4 linked regions of the Homo sapiens genome follow. The protein of the gene in region 4 purifies or fractionates together with the protein of the main gene of each other region. This does not show direct contact. Each region holds a gene or a part of one and is shown on either strand. Other genes may lie near its edges.

What was found.
Region 1: the proteins of PARVG (region 4) and BCAP31 purify together in Homo sapiens (co-immunoprecipitation; one large-scale study listed by IntAct). This does not show direct contact.
Region 2: the proteins of PARVG (region 4) and POLK purify together in Homo sapiens (affinity purification with mass spectrometry; 3 studies listed by BioGRID and IntAct, with this or other methods). This does not show direct contact.
Region 3: the proteins of PARVG (region 4) and MTX2 purify together in Homo sapiens (affinity purification with mass spectrometry; one large-scale study listed by BioGRID and IntAct). This does not show direct contact.

Annotation. Positions count from the first base shown.
Region 1 is NC_000023.11:153,717,888-153,721,387, forward strand, and holds part of BCAP31 (B-cell receptor-associated protein 31), read right to left. Parts: intron 3,086-3,500; coding exon 2,985-3,085; intron 1-2,984. UniProt on the Homo sapiens protein: Functions as a chaperone protein. Is one of the most abundant endoplasmic reticulum (ER) proteins.
Region 2 is NC_000005.10:75,514,891-75,518,390, reverse strand, and holds part of POLK (DNA polymerase kappa), read right to left. Parts: intron 1-3,500. UniProt on the Homo sapiens protein: DNA polymerase specifically involved in DNA repair. Plays an important role in translesion synthesis, where the normal high-fidelity DNA polymerases cannot proceed and DNA synthesis stalls.
Region 3 is NC_000002.12:176,321,442-176,324,941, reverse strand, and holds part of MTX2 (metaxin-2), read right to left. Parts: intron 1,551-3,500; coding exon 1,478-1,550; intron 1-1,477. UniProt on the Homo sapiens protein: Involved in transport of proteins into the mitochondrion.
Region 4 is NC_000022.11:44,187,425-44,190,924, reverse strand, and holds part of PARVG (gamma-parvin), read right to left. Parts: intron 3,150-3,500; coding exon 3,047-3,149; intron 1,812-3,046; coding exon 1,671-1,811; intron 375-1,670; coding exon 259-374; intron 1-258. UniProt on the Homo sapiens protein: Plays a role with ILK in promoting the cell adhesion and spreading of leukocytes.

The DNA.
Region 1 (3,500 bases), on a different chromosome or scaffold from region 4:
AATTCACCTCTGAAATTATCCCACAGAAGTATTTGCATAAATTTGCAATGATTCGAAGATGCTTATAAAGAATGGATTACGGCACAACCACATGAGAGAATACTACATGATCTTTAAGAAGAATGAGATTGCTATAAAAAGATGTTGGCCGGACACAGTGGCTCATGCCTGTAATTTCAGCACTTTGGGAGGCCGAGGTGGGCGGATCACTTGAGGCCAGGAGTTCAAGACCAGCCTGGCCAACACGGTGAAACCTCGTCTCTACTAAAAATACAAAAAATTAGCCGGGCATGGTGGCGGGCGCCTGTAACCTGCAGCTACTCGGAAGCTGAGGCAGGGGAAATCGCTTGAACCTGGGAGGCGGAGGTTGCAGTGAGCCAAGATGGCGCCACTGCACTGCAGTCTGGGCAACAAAGTGAGATTCCATCTCAAAAAAAAAAAAAAAAAAAAAAGATGTCTAACGTGCAGCAGGTAGAAAAAGCACAATCCAAAGTATTGGCTAGGCTCTGCTATGGACAGCAGTCTTATCTCAGAGCTGTGCTACCAGCTCAGGCGTGGAATGCTCCTCCTGCCATGTCCCAGCAGGAATGTGGAAAGAAACATAAATACTTTGTGTGTATGATCCCACCGTTGTAGACATTTTATTAAAGATGTCAGCATACAAAACCCCTCTGGAAATGCACAACAAAATACTCATGATGGTTACCTGTGGGAAATGGGATTATGGGGAGTTTAACTTTCTAAATTCAACTTTTGAATTTTTAAGAATAATTACCCATTATTTTTGTAATCAGAAAAACAAGATAAACATGTTTCCTTACACTGTCACCTGCATCCAGGAACCCCACCATCCTAAGGACCACCTTGGCCAATGACCAATAGTGGGGATGGGGGACTGAGCAATACTAACCCAAGTCCCACAGTAGAAACCAGCCCTCCCTGTCTCGGGCCTCAGCCCAGGTGGGAAGATCCTGCACCCTCAGCAACTCCATCCTCCAGGAGGATCTGCTCAACCCTCCCCACCCCCAAGCAAGGCCACAGCTCTAGCTAGTTATGCCCCTTACCCTTCACTAGTACCTGTGACTAACACTTCTGTTTGAAGAAGGCTCTGCAGATCTTTCTAGATTATGCTTCTTAACATGGGAGTAGGAAGCAGCCAGTCATCATGGCCATATGTCCCCCTAGAACTTCCAAGCAGTTCCCCGATCCCAAAAAAGAATGAAGGCTTTGTCAACTACTGGATTCCGCAAAGGATCTCTCCAGCCCACTCAGCTGCTCTAGGAAAGAAACATACTCCTTCTGGTTTGGGGAAGGGGCAAGACCCTGAGGGAATCATCCTCAGCATGGTCCCTCCCCTCCCCAGTTATTACCCCCACCCCAGACCCAAAAGCCAAAACACACATGCTCAGTTCAAAAACTCAGTGGCCTGGGGATGACACATATATTACCTACCTACTCCTGGCTTGGAGGCTGCTCAGGGCGAGAACCCTGGTTAGAAAGAGCTACTACCTCTTGGGGCCTTGCCAAGTATTTCAAGAACACTGAGGTGCTCAGGCAGCTGGCACCTACCCTATGTGGTTGGAAGCTGTCAGGTAACACTTGGCCTGTTCAGAGGCAGTCCAGCCTGAACATATCCTATCAGGCTCTGAGACATCAGGAAGGAGAAATGCCTAATGCTGAAGCTGGTGGGTGAGGCTTTGCACATTCCCCTGAACCACAGCCCCCCACCCGCTCAGTGTTTCTGCTGGGACTCGGTGGGAGGAGTGTTCCACGCCTAGGCAGGCACCACAGCTCTGAGACAAGAGTGGTGTCCACAGCAGAGCCAAGCCAATACTTTGGAGCCCAAACAGGGGGACATATCGATCACTTACCACAGCAAAACAACAAACATCTACCAGTCAGACAAGAGCTTTATTGATTCTTGTCTCCAGATGGTCACCCTACCACCTCATTGCAAAATGTCTGCCTTTCATCTTACCACCACCTGGCCTGGCCTTATCCCAGAGCCTGCTTGCCCTTGGACCAGTTTATCTTTCAAGCACCTGCTAGTGTACACCTCAATGTCAGAGTTTACAGAACTACAGAGCTGGAACGACCTGGGAAAACCTCAAGTCTAGCCCAGATGCAGAGAGGTCTAGGATCTCTCCCCAAGATATGCTGCCACACATCTCTGTGTTCTCCTCCTACTACTACAGGGAATGGCAGGACTTCACTGTGTGCTTGGTTGCTCAGTCCCCCATTAGAGGCCCTGCTCCAGGCAATTCTGCTGTTTAAGTGACTGGTGAGCAGCACTACTCAGACCAAGGTCACAGGCCAGTTAGCTTCTCTTGGCTTCAGTTCTAGAGTGACCTGAGGAGCAGCCTCAGAAACCTTAGGCGTCCCTCCTTCCAAGGTCTTGAAAAAAAGCAATGTAAGGTGGCCGTCATAAGCTGCATACAAACTGCTTGGTATAAGCCCACGCCCACTGCTAGAGGGGCCTCTTTTTTTTTTTTTTGAGATGGAGTCTCCCTCTTGTTGCCCAGGCTGGAGTGCAATGGTGCGATTTAGGCTCACTGCAACCTCTGCCTCGTGGGTTCAAGCAATTCTCCTGCCTCAGTCTCCCAAGTAGCTGGGATTACAGGTGCCCGCCACCACGCCCAGCTAATTTTGTATTTTTCGTAGAGATGGGGTTTCACCACGTTGGCCAGGCTGATCTCGAACTCCTCATCTCAGGTGATCCACCGACCTCAGCCTCCCAAAGTGCTGGGATTACAGGCATGAGCCACCATGTACGGCCTAGAGGGGCCTCAAAGTGAAGAACCGACTAGCGGTCAGCAGCATGGGCAAAGGGAGCCTCTTCCCTCCCTCAAGAGAAAGACACAGCATTTCATTGGTCTGTCTCCTAGCAGCCAAAACTGGATGCTACACATCAAAAGTGGCAAAGGGTTTTGCAGCAGAGACCAGGGTCTAGGTCAGGTAGCTGCCCTCAGCCATAGCTCACTCACCGATGACCAACAGCACAAGGATGACAATGAGAACCACAAAGAAGGTGTTGCCATAGGACACTAACAACTCCACCAGCCGGGACTTGAAAATCTTCTGCCATCTGTGAAGAAGACAAAAAGGACAGGAGTTGAAGAGAAAGCACACACACGAGCTCTAGGGCCCTGAGCAAAATGGAAATCCAGCTTTGTACTCTTCTCCAATGGCCGAATAGCCCATGCAAAGTCAGCCTCAGTGGCTTGCAATTCTCTAATTTGACATCCATTCAAGACTATTGGAAAAAAGGCCAGGTGCAATGGCTCACACCTGTAATCTCAGCACTTTGGGAGACCAAGGTGGGTGGATCACTTGAGGTCAGGAGTGCAAGACCAAACTGGCCAACATGGCGAAACCCTGTCTCTACTAAAAGTACGAAAATTAGCCAGGCGTGGTGGTGGGCACCTGTAATCCCAGCTACTCAGGAGGGTGAGGCAGGAGAATCACTTGAACCTGGGAGGCGGAAGTTGCAGTGAGCCGAG
Region 2 (3,500 bases), on a different chromosome or scaffold from region 4:
TAATAAATTCCTGGACACTTACAACCTACCAAGATTGAAACATGAATAAACTGAAAACCTGAACAGACCAGTAAGTAATAAGATGGAAGCTGCAATAAAAAGTCTTTCATCAAAGAAAAGCCTGGAACCTGATGGCTTCACTGCTGAATTCTACCCAACATTTCAAGAATAACTAATTCTCACTTCTACTCAAACTCTTCCAAAACAAAACAAAACAAAAAATTAAAGAGGGAATACTTCCAAACTCATTCTACAAGGCCAGCATTACCTTGATATCAAAACCAAATAAGGACACAACAAAAAAGAAAACTACAGGCCAATATTACTGATGAATACAGATGCAAAAATTCTCAACAAAATACTAGCAAATCACATTAATAAGATCCTTCATCATGATCAAGTGGGATTCATCCAAGGGACGCAAGGATAGTTCAACATATTCAAATCAATAAACATGATACATCACATTAACAGAATCAAGAACCAAAAACATATGACCATTTCAATAGATGCTGAAAAAGTATTTGACAAATTCAACATCTCTTTATGATAAAAACCCTCAGCAAACTGGATACAGCAGGAACATGTTCCCAAATAATAAAGGCCACATGTGATAAAACCACAGCTAACATCACACTGAATGGTGAAATATTGAAAGCCTTTCCTCTAAGATCTGGAACAAGACAAGGATGCCCACCTTCACCACTGTTATCTAATATAATACTGAAAGCCCTGGTCACAGCAATCAGACAAGAGAAAGAAATAAAGGGCATCTAAATTGCAAAGGAAGGAGTCAAGTTATCTTTGTAGGCAACATAATCTTATATTTACAAAACCCCTAAAGACTCCACCAAAAGCTGTTAAGAACTGATAAACAAATTCAGTAAAGTGTCAGGATACAAAATTAACATACAAAAGTCAGTACAGACTTTTTTTTATTTAGATTGCTTTCTTGATTTATTTTTCATGTTGTTTGCTGTTAGAGCATAACATTTACAATAGTTACAAATAATATAAAATACGAAGCAATTATCTTAAGTGAAAGATCTGTAAAAGAAAACTATAAAACACTGATGAAGAAAATTGAAGACACAAATAAAAGGAAAGATATTCTAAGCTTGTGGAATTAGAAGAATATTGTTAAAACGACAATACTACCCAAAACAATTTTCAGATTCAATGCAATCTCTATCAAAATACCAGTGACATTCTTCACAGAAATAGAAAAAGAATCCTAAAACGTATATAGAACCACAAAAAGACTCTGAATAGCCAAAGCAGTCCTAGGGGAAAAGAACAAAGCTTGGGGCATCACACTATCTGACTTCAAAATATACTACAAAGCTATAGTAACCAAATGACCATAATACTGGCAAGAAAATAGACACATGGACAAATGGAACAGAATAGAGAACCCAGATATAAATCCACACATTTACAACCAAGTAATTTTTGACAAAGCAATCAAGAACACATCATGGTAAAAGGATAGTCTCTTCAATAAATGGTGCTGGGAAAACTGGATAACCACATGCAGAAGAATAAGACTATCTCTCAGATATTTCTTCCTTATCTCTTTGATTTTTGATACAAAAATCAAATCAAAATGGATTAGAAACTTAAATGTAAGATCTGAAATTATGAAACTACTAGAAAAATGTATTTGGGAAATACTCCAGGACATTGGCCTGGCCAAAAGTTGTTTTATTTTGTTTTTTTGTTTTTGGAGACAGGGTCTCACTCTGTTACCTGGCTTTGAATGCAGTGGTGTAATCACAGCTTTCTATACCCTTGACCTCCTGAGCTCAAGCAATCCTCCCACCTCAGGCTCCTGAGTAGCTGGGATCACAGGTGTGTGCTACCACATCCAGCTAATTTTATTTATTCATTTAACTTTATTTTTAAACTTTTAATGTTTTAAACTTTTTTCTTTAATTTTATTTTAATTTTTAAACTTTTAAAATTCTTTTTGCAAAAGTAGGGTCTCCCTATGTTGCCCAGACTGGTCTGAAACTCCTGGGGTCAAGCAATCCTCTGCCTCAGCCTCCCAAAGTGCTGGGATTATAGGCATGAGGCACAACTCTTGGCCTGGCCAAAAACTTTTCTGTGTAAGACCACAAAAGCACTGACAACCAAAGCAAACGTAGACAAATTAGATTATATCAAGCTAAAAAGCTTCTTCACAGCTGAGTGAACAATCAACAAAGTGAAGGGACAACCCACAGAACAGGAGAAAATGTCTGCAAACTATCCATCTGACAAGGGATTAGTAACCAGAATATATAAGGAGCTCAAACAACTCAATAAAAGAAAAATAATCTTATTTAAAAATGGGCAAAAGAATAGACATTTCTCAAAATAAGGCATACTAATGGCCAACAGGTAAATTAAAAAAATGTTCAACATCACTAATCATCATAGAAATGCAAATCAAAACCACAATGAGCTATCATCTTACCCCAGTCAAAATGGCTTAAAAAAAATTTTTTTTATTATACTAGAGACGAGGTCTCACTACGTTGCCCACGCTAGTTTTAAACTCCTGAGCAGCTCAAGTGATCCTCTCACCTCAGTCACCATGGGCGGCCTAAAATGGCTTTTATTAAAAAGATAGAGAATAATGGATGGTGGCAAGGATGTGGAGAAAGGGGAACCCTGCTACACTGTTGGTGGGAATGTAAATTAGTACAGTCACTATGGAATACAGTATGGAGGTTCCTCAGAAAACTTAAAATACAACTACTGTATGATCTAGCAATTCTACTACTACGTATATATCCAAAAGGGAAATCAATACATTGAAGAGATATCTGCACTCACACGTTTATTACAGCACTATTCACAATAGCTAAAATATGGAATCAACCATCAATGGATGAATGGATAAAGAAGATGTGGTCTATATACACAATGGAATTTAGCCATAAAAAAAGAATATTGGGCCTGGCATGTTGGCTCACATCAAATCTCAACACTTTGGGAGGCCAAGGCAGGAGGATTGCTTGAGGCCTCCCTATTTCAAGAATATATGGAATAAAAATTTGGGTTTGCTATGTTTTTATTTTTATTATAATTTCTAATAAAGTTGTTTTTCCACTATCCCTTTATTGCTGCTTCTCAGGACTATTCATAAAATGACCAAAAATACAAAAAATAAAATGATAGTAAATGACAATGACTATTTTTCCTGATAATACCAAAGGTTAAATCAATACGTTTTTCCTTTTAGTAGCAACACAAGACAAGGGGATAGTTGCAAGAGGCTCCAGAGATCATTTAAATTATTTATGCGTAATTGGAACATATATTTGCTAGTGTACACTAGCAAGAAAAGAGCTGTAAACTGGCTATATGTTACTGCACCTTAAAAATGCATGTGGATGAATTTTCTTTTAAGAAAACTGTTAAACTAAAGAAAAACTATGTAACACACCTAGAATGTAATCTATCTGGCTCTGACAGATTCTCAAATGTTTAATCATTTAAAAAATTTGGGATAA
Region 3 (3,500 bases), on a different chromosome or scaffold from region 4:
CAAAGAAGCAAATACAATAAAAAACATTTCCCTATCACCTCAAATCATTAAATGAAAGAGAATACCAATCTGAGATATGATAAAGTTTAAATATCTTAGTAGAAAGTGCCATTTTCATCTACCTATAGGAGACTCCTATGAAAGAATGTATATTTTTGTATGTCTCTAGAATATTTATGTTTGTCTTTCGCGCAATCTAATAAAAAGAAAATAGGTATCTACCTAAATGACACTAAGTATAGTAATTTTAGGAAACAGGTAGATAAACTATATTGATATCTCACTTGCCAAAGATCTGAACTTTAGCATTAGATTACTAACCTTCTAACCTTTTTACATAAATATACAAACTGTTTGTATGACTACATAGAGGAAAAGGATGGACAAAACACAACATAACTTATTTCACCAGAACTCTGTAGTTCCTAAAATCTACGTATAAAACCAACACAAAAATGAGTCAATGAATGCCCTCCAAGAATCTAAAATATGTTTACATTTACAAGCCTAGAAATTATTTTATGGAAATGTTTTCTAAATGTATATTCATAAACCTCTAAAACCAGGTATTTATATAAAAGAACATTATGTACAGAAGGGGTGTCTTCATACCTTTTAACAATTTCTACCACCCTTAAAAACTTAAGGTGGAAAAAAAAAATTTAACACAAGTCACTCCTAAATTATCATATCAAAATGAAAAATGTCTCCCTAAAAAGCAATGTTACACACTTATACCAATCAGTTATACTTAATAATTTATTCAAAAAGGAGTAATTCTACGTATTATTGCTCCAACAAAACCATAATTACAATAATCATCCATGATAATTATATATAACATTTATTTATCAGCTTTGTAGCACATTTTTATATTAAAAATTTTGAATTATTTATTTAAAACAGTAATTTAATCTACTGACATAAAGATAATACTGATTTTAAAAAATAGGAAGCTAAAGCATCTCAAAACCTGTTAAAATTAAGCATTAGAAAAAATAATTAGAAACCAAAAACATTCAGTGATGACTTCAAGATCTAACGACAAATTAATTTTTCTACAATCTCTCTTCTTCCAGCTGTATTATGGGAGAATATAATTAAGAAAGATGTGTGGAATAATAAATGGATTCATTATTACTAAAATTTGTTTTCTCAACAGGAAAGTCTTATGTACATTAAGACTAGGGAAATCTGAGATCATGTATTTCCTTAACATTTACTATTTAAAACAATTCCCTTACTATTAAAACCATTTCCACACGTCAGTAACCATCTCTGATCACAGTTGAAATGAATAGATATGCCAACCCCAAGATTGTCAAATTTGCAATTGTTACTTTCTAAAACCATGGAAAGATTCTTCAAAGGGTAAACAAAAAAAATCAGGCATTTTAACATGTAGATACAAACTGGACTATCACTATAATTTTATCACTCCATAATATTAACAGAGAAGAAAAAAAAACACACTTACCAGATGGAGACATATATTCTGCATTTGCCCTACAAACTACTTTGATAGGCAAGTTACACATTTGCAAAAAGGCCTGTAAATCAAGATACATACAATAAGCCCAGTAAAAAGCATATGCATATTTGAACAGAAATTTGTATGCATTTCTTTTCTAAACTGAATAGTTTCATACTACAAAACTCTAATAGAAAACAATGAACCAATTTAAAGTGAAGGATTTGTTTTCCAAACAAAAATGTCATGTCACTACTTAAAAATCAGTATGATTTAGACATCAGTAAATACATGAAACTTAAAGTATGTATGTATACCTAAGGAATAAAATGTAAATTATCCACATTTATGTTACTGTATTAGTTTATGTAAACCAGCAATACTATATATATAGCTTTAATTTTCTTAAGTAGATGACTAAAGTCCAAATTTTATAAGCTATTAATTGCTTCATTCCACTATTTTCTATAGGATCATCATCTTCCTCATTTTAGAGGAAAACTCAAAATACTATCTCTGCTACCTCAAAGTTCTCTCCAGTAATACCCTATATTCCAACATGTAGTTTCTGTGCTCACGAATTCACTTTTTAAAGACTTAAATTGTTTATCTTTGCTCATAGTTACAAAAATGTTATAAGCAATTTAAATGTCTAATAATAAGGGTATGGGGTAAATCATTATAGTAAATCCAAACTATGGAATGCTATACACAATCAATTTTAAAACTCATGCTTTAGAAAAAATTTTACATCAAGAAAAAATGTACACATTATAATATTAAGTAAAAAAATGCAAAACTCTATTACTAGATCACACTAATTCATTTTTAAATGTTTTTAAGACACCAGTGAACTCTGCCAAACCCACTGTTTTTTACAATACTCAAAGTCCACTCCCCTTGTTCTCTCTTCTATGACTTCTTGGCTTCTTTTTCTCTATTCACAAAATTTACTATGTTATTTCTATAAAATAATTCAGTTATTCAATTGGGGAGGTCATAAGTTACAATGGTTCTAATTACCACATACAAATTGGAAGACAAACCTTTTGTCTATTTTGAAATTGAAAGTACTATAAATAGCTGTCAAAAGTAAGATAAGATAAATTAATAAATTAACAAGGATATTATTTATCATTTTACTCAACAGAGATTTCTCATAGGTTTATTATAATTCCTTCCTCAACTCTACATTAGAAATAAGTGTTAAGACTCTTAAGTGTTAAGGGTACAAAACAGTGATTAATATCTTGTACAAAGAACTCCATTTACCCAAAAGTATGTCAATTCTCTTCTGTTTTCTCAAAACTCCAGTCCTTTAGAGATGCCTGCCTCCAAAAATAAATCCCACGTGAGTCTGATTCCCCCACTAATTGCATCCTCTGATTCTTACATTGCTCTGTAACTTATGTATGCATGTCTGATCTCCTCAAGTAAATGGCATCTCTTAGAAAAGCAAGGGGGAGATTTTTAATTTTTTTTTTCAATTCTGTTCTCCTTCCCCCAATCTCCCTCATTTTCCCACAATTCATCTTTCATAGTGCACTACTTATAATAAGCAATATTGTTTACTGATTGAGCCATTCAAAGCTCCCAAGAGCTTATCCTGGTAGAGGCTGTTATCCCTGCCACATATGTTCTCTCCTTTCCCTACAGTGGTAGAAACTATCTGCACACAAGGCTGCCTAAAATAAAAACTTATTTTCCGGGCTCCCTTACAACTGGGTATGGCCAACTGGACTAAAAGTTCTGGACAACTGCTGGGAAGTTTCTTTAAAAGGAGAAAGTATCTCCTCTTTTTCCTCCCTGTTGACTAGAATGTAAAAAGGATGGCTATAGCTATAGCAGCCAAACAGAACCATGAAGTAGCAGCTGAGTGTTAGAAATGGTAGAGCAACAAGAGTAAAGGGGCCCAGGTTCTTGATAATCATGTAGTCACCAAACCTGGATTACCCGTGTTTGTCCGAGAAGTGAACTACCTTTTTAAGCTACCACTATATTGGGTTTCTGTCACTCACTGCCAAATCCA
Region 4 (3,500 bases):
TGAGGTCAAGTGGAGCTGGCCAGCCGTGGACCTCCTCATGCCCCCAGGCCTCCGCCAGCCCCACTAGACCCTTACCAGCCCGTCCCCAGCTCCAGACAGCACCCCCTGGCCATCCTGGCTGGATTCTATTTCTCAGGGTTCCCTGAAACTCACCCTGGGTCAGCCCCGCCCCAGCCAGCTCCACCCATGCAGGGTACGGCAATGGGGGCCCAAGAGGCTCAGCTTCTGCTTACAAATCCCTGGGGCCCAGGCTGCTACCTCGATAGTGATGACCTCCACCTGGACGTTGGTTGGGAGGGAGAGGTCGGGCTGGAAGCGCTTGGCCAGGGCCACAAGGAGGTGCAGGGTAGACAACAGGTCCTTGTTGAAGATGCCTGGGAAGAGAGTGGAGACAGGTCAGAGCCCAGGAGGCCGCCAAAACGTGCAGCCAAATGGAGGCTTCCTCACTGTCAGAACAACCATCTGCAGACCAAGGAGGTCTGTGTCCAGCCTTCTGGAGAGCAGAGATCTGGAGATACGTGTTCAGAACCTAAAAATCATCACACTTCACCCCATCATCTCACTTCTTAGAATATAGCCCAGGGGTATGATCTACCTTGTGGAAGGGGCTCTAGACACAAAGATGTTTACTGCAGCACTGTTTACAATCGGAAACAACCAAGTGACCTCTGGGAAGGCACTGGCTGAACGATCATTAGATTTCAGCTGCATGTGACTTAATTCAGGGTTGATTTCATCAACATCAATTACTGATTGTGAGACCTTACAGGCTGCGAATGCAGGCGCATGGGACCCAACAAAACCTGGGTTTGAAAACGGACTCTGTTAAATCCTCACCGCCCAACCTTGGAGAAGCTGCATAATTTCTTTCAGCCTCAGTTTTCTCATCTGGGTGGGGTGGGGGGATATGGAGAATTGAAGGGAAGGAAATCTATACCAAACTGTGAACCAGGTGGGGTGGGGAAGTCTAGGTGTTTGGCACGCTCTCTTGGTTTTTGTGTTTCTTTGATAAGGAGTCTCACTCTTGTAGCCCAGACTGGAGTGAAGTGGTGCAATCTGGGCTCACTGCAACCTCTGCCTCCCAGGTTCAAGCGATTCTCCTGCCTCAGCCTCCTGAGTAGCTGGGATTACAGGCACCGGCCACCACGCCCAGCTAATTTTTGTATTTTTAGTAGAGATGGGGTTTCACCATGTTGACCAGGCTGGTCTCAAACTCCTGACCTCAGGTGATCCACCCGCCTCGGCCTCCCAAAGTGCTGGGATTACAGGTGTGAGACACCACACCCGACCAGGCACACTCATTTTTTGTATAAGCAGGCCCTGCAGATATTCCAATACTTTAATGAAATGAGAGTGTGGATGGGCGGACCACGGTACTTGGAACTCAACAGTGGCTGTCATTCAGATAGCAAACAGAGACTGTTTGCTATCCTTGGGCTGCACTTTGCAGCAGTAACACCCTCTAGGGCACAGATGTGTGCTGGGCTGTTGGCTGCTCAGCCAGATGCCTGACTGTGGCTGCCTGAGGCTTCTACCTCCTTCCTGACTCCCAGGTTGTACCCCTGCTGGGAGAAGGATGAGTGCGCCTTCCTGGTGGGTGAGAAGCCTGAAGCAGAAGGACCCCAGCGGCCCCACACTCCCCAGGGGTAGCCAGGTTGTGGCCCACGTACTCTCCACGCTCCACTTGGCCTGCCACTCCTCCAGCTGCAGACTCCGGTTCACGGCCTCCAGCACCACTGTGAGCTTGTGCTTCTGGCTTGTGGCTGTCAGGGCGATGTCCTCTGCTTCCAGCTTGAGCGCCGCCAGCCTCTCTGGAGGCAGGAGAGGGTGGTGAGGACCCCTGGCCGGGGACAGACCAGAGAGCACCTCAGGGACCCTCCAGGAGGCTGAGCCTGCCTGGTGCTTCAGGGAACATGGGTCTGGAGAGCCCATTCTTGGTGTTGGACCGTGGGCCACACTCACAGCCTCAATCGGGTATGCCCTCCAGCTTCCAGGAGACCCTCATCTACACAGAACAGGATTGGTGGGCCATGCAGGCCACATGATGTGAGCAAGCCTCAGCCCCCTGAGCTGGTTGAGAGAGCCCACCTCACCTTGATCAGCCTGTGCCTGCAGCCCCTGCCCTTCTGCACAGCTGTGTCCACTTCATCTCTGCAGGGCAGTGTGGCCTAGTGGTTAAAGCCTACACTCCTAGGCTTCTATCCTGACCCCCCTGCTTCCCTAACCATAAGACCTTGGAGAAATTATGAGGCCTCTCAGAGGCTCCCTTTCCTCATCTGTGAAATGGGGACAGTAACAGCACAGGGCTATTCTGAGGATGAACTGCACCTGCTACATGGGACATGCCCGGAAGTGCTAGCCGCATGAGTGGGATTGTGCAGCCCATCTCCAAAGAGCTCGGCGAACACTGCAGAGGCTGGCCTCAGGCGAAGTGCTGAGGACATGGAATTGGGCCTATCTGTGGCCTCCGAGACCACAGTTGTGTGCAGAAGAGATGCGTAGACCAGACATGACCATACAAGGACAAAGGAGAGGGTGACTCTGGGGCTTGTGGGGAACACTTGCCCGGGACCAGGAGGAGGCCCTGAGAATGCACATCCCCTGCAAAGCCCCTTGGAGCTTTCCAGACTGAGGAGGAACACGGAGACAGGAGCCCAGCCCTGCCCCCAGCCACCCAGGACTGCCCGTTTTCTCTCTAGCAGCCTAGGGCAGCCCGAGGGCAGGGATCATGGGTTCTTTTGTTACCTCCCAGCACCTCAAAACAGCAGGCACTCAATAAGTGTTAGAGAGGCAGTGTGGTGTGGTAGAAAGAGCACCAACCCTGGCGTCAGAGCCCCACCCTGAGCCCCAGCTCGGCCCCCTCACTCATGGGCTGTGGACAGCGCCTCCATCTCCCCAGCCCAGGCCCATCTAGAAAGTGAGACAGGTGTCCCTAAACCCGGGACCATTGTGGGGACTGAAGGAGAGAGCCTACCTGTGGGCCCTGGAGGGGCCAGGTCAGGGGGATGGGGCCGAGGCCCAGGCAGCCCCAGAAACAGCCACTTACGGAATAGGTGGTGTAGGATGAGCCCGTCGAACATGTCCTCCTCCAGGCTGCGGACCACAATGTGCTCGGGGAGAAGAGTGGCATTGATCCACTCCATCAACACCTGCAGGCTCCAAGGGGACAACTTTTGGGGGGATGGAGACTTCTCACCTGGCCCTCCACCTGGCTCAGAATGCCTGCCTCTCGCCTGCCAACTCCTACCCATCTTTCAAGGCCTGGTCAAATGTCACCTCCACTGGGAAGCCCTCCTTGATCTCCCAGGCTGTTAGGGGCCTGCCCCAGGTTCCTGCAGACTCCCTGCTTCTCTCCATCACAAACCTGAGCAGTGTGGGGCTGTCATTATCATGTGTGAGGTTTTAGTACCAGGAAGTGGGGTACTACCATAGCAAATACCCAAAAATGGGGAAATGGCTTGGGGAATGGAAAGAATTGGACAATGAGCACTTGATAGAAA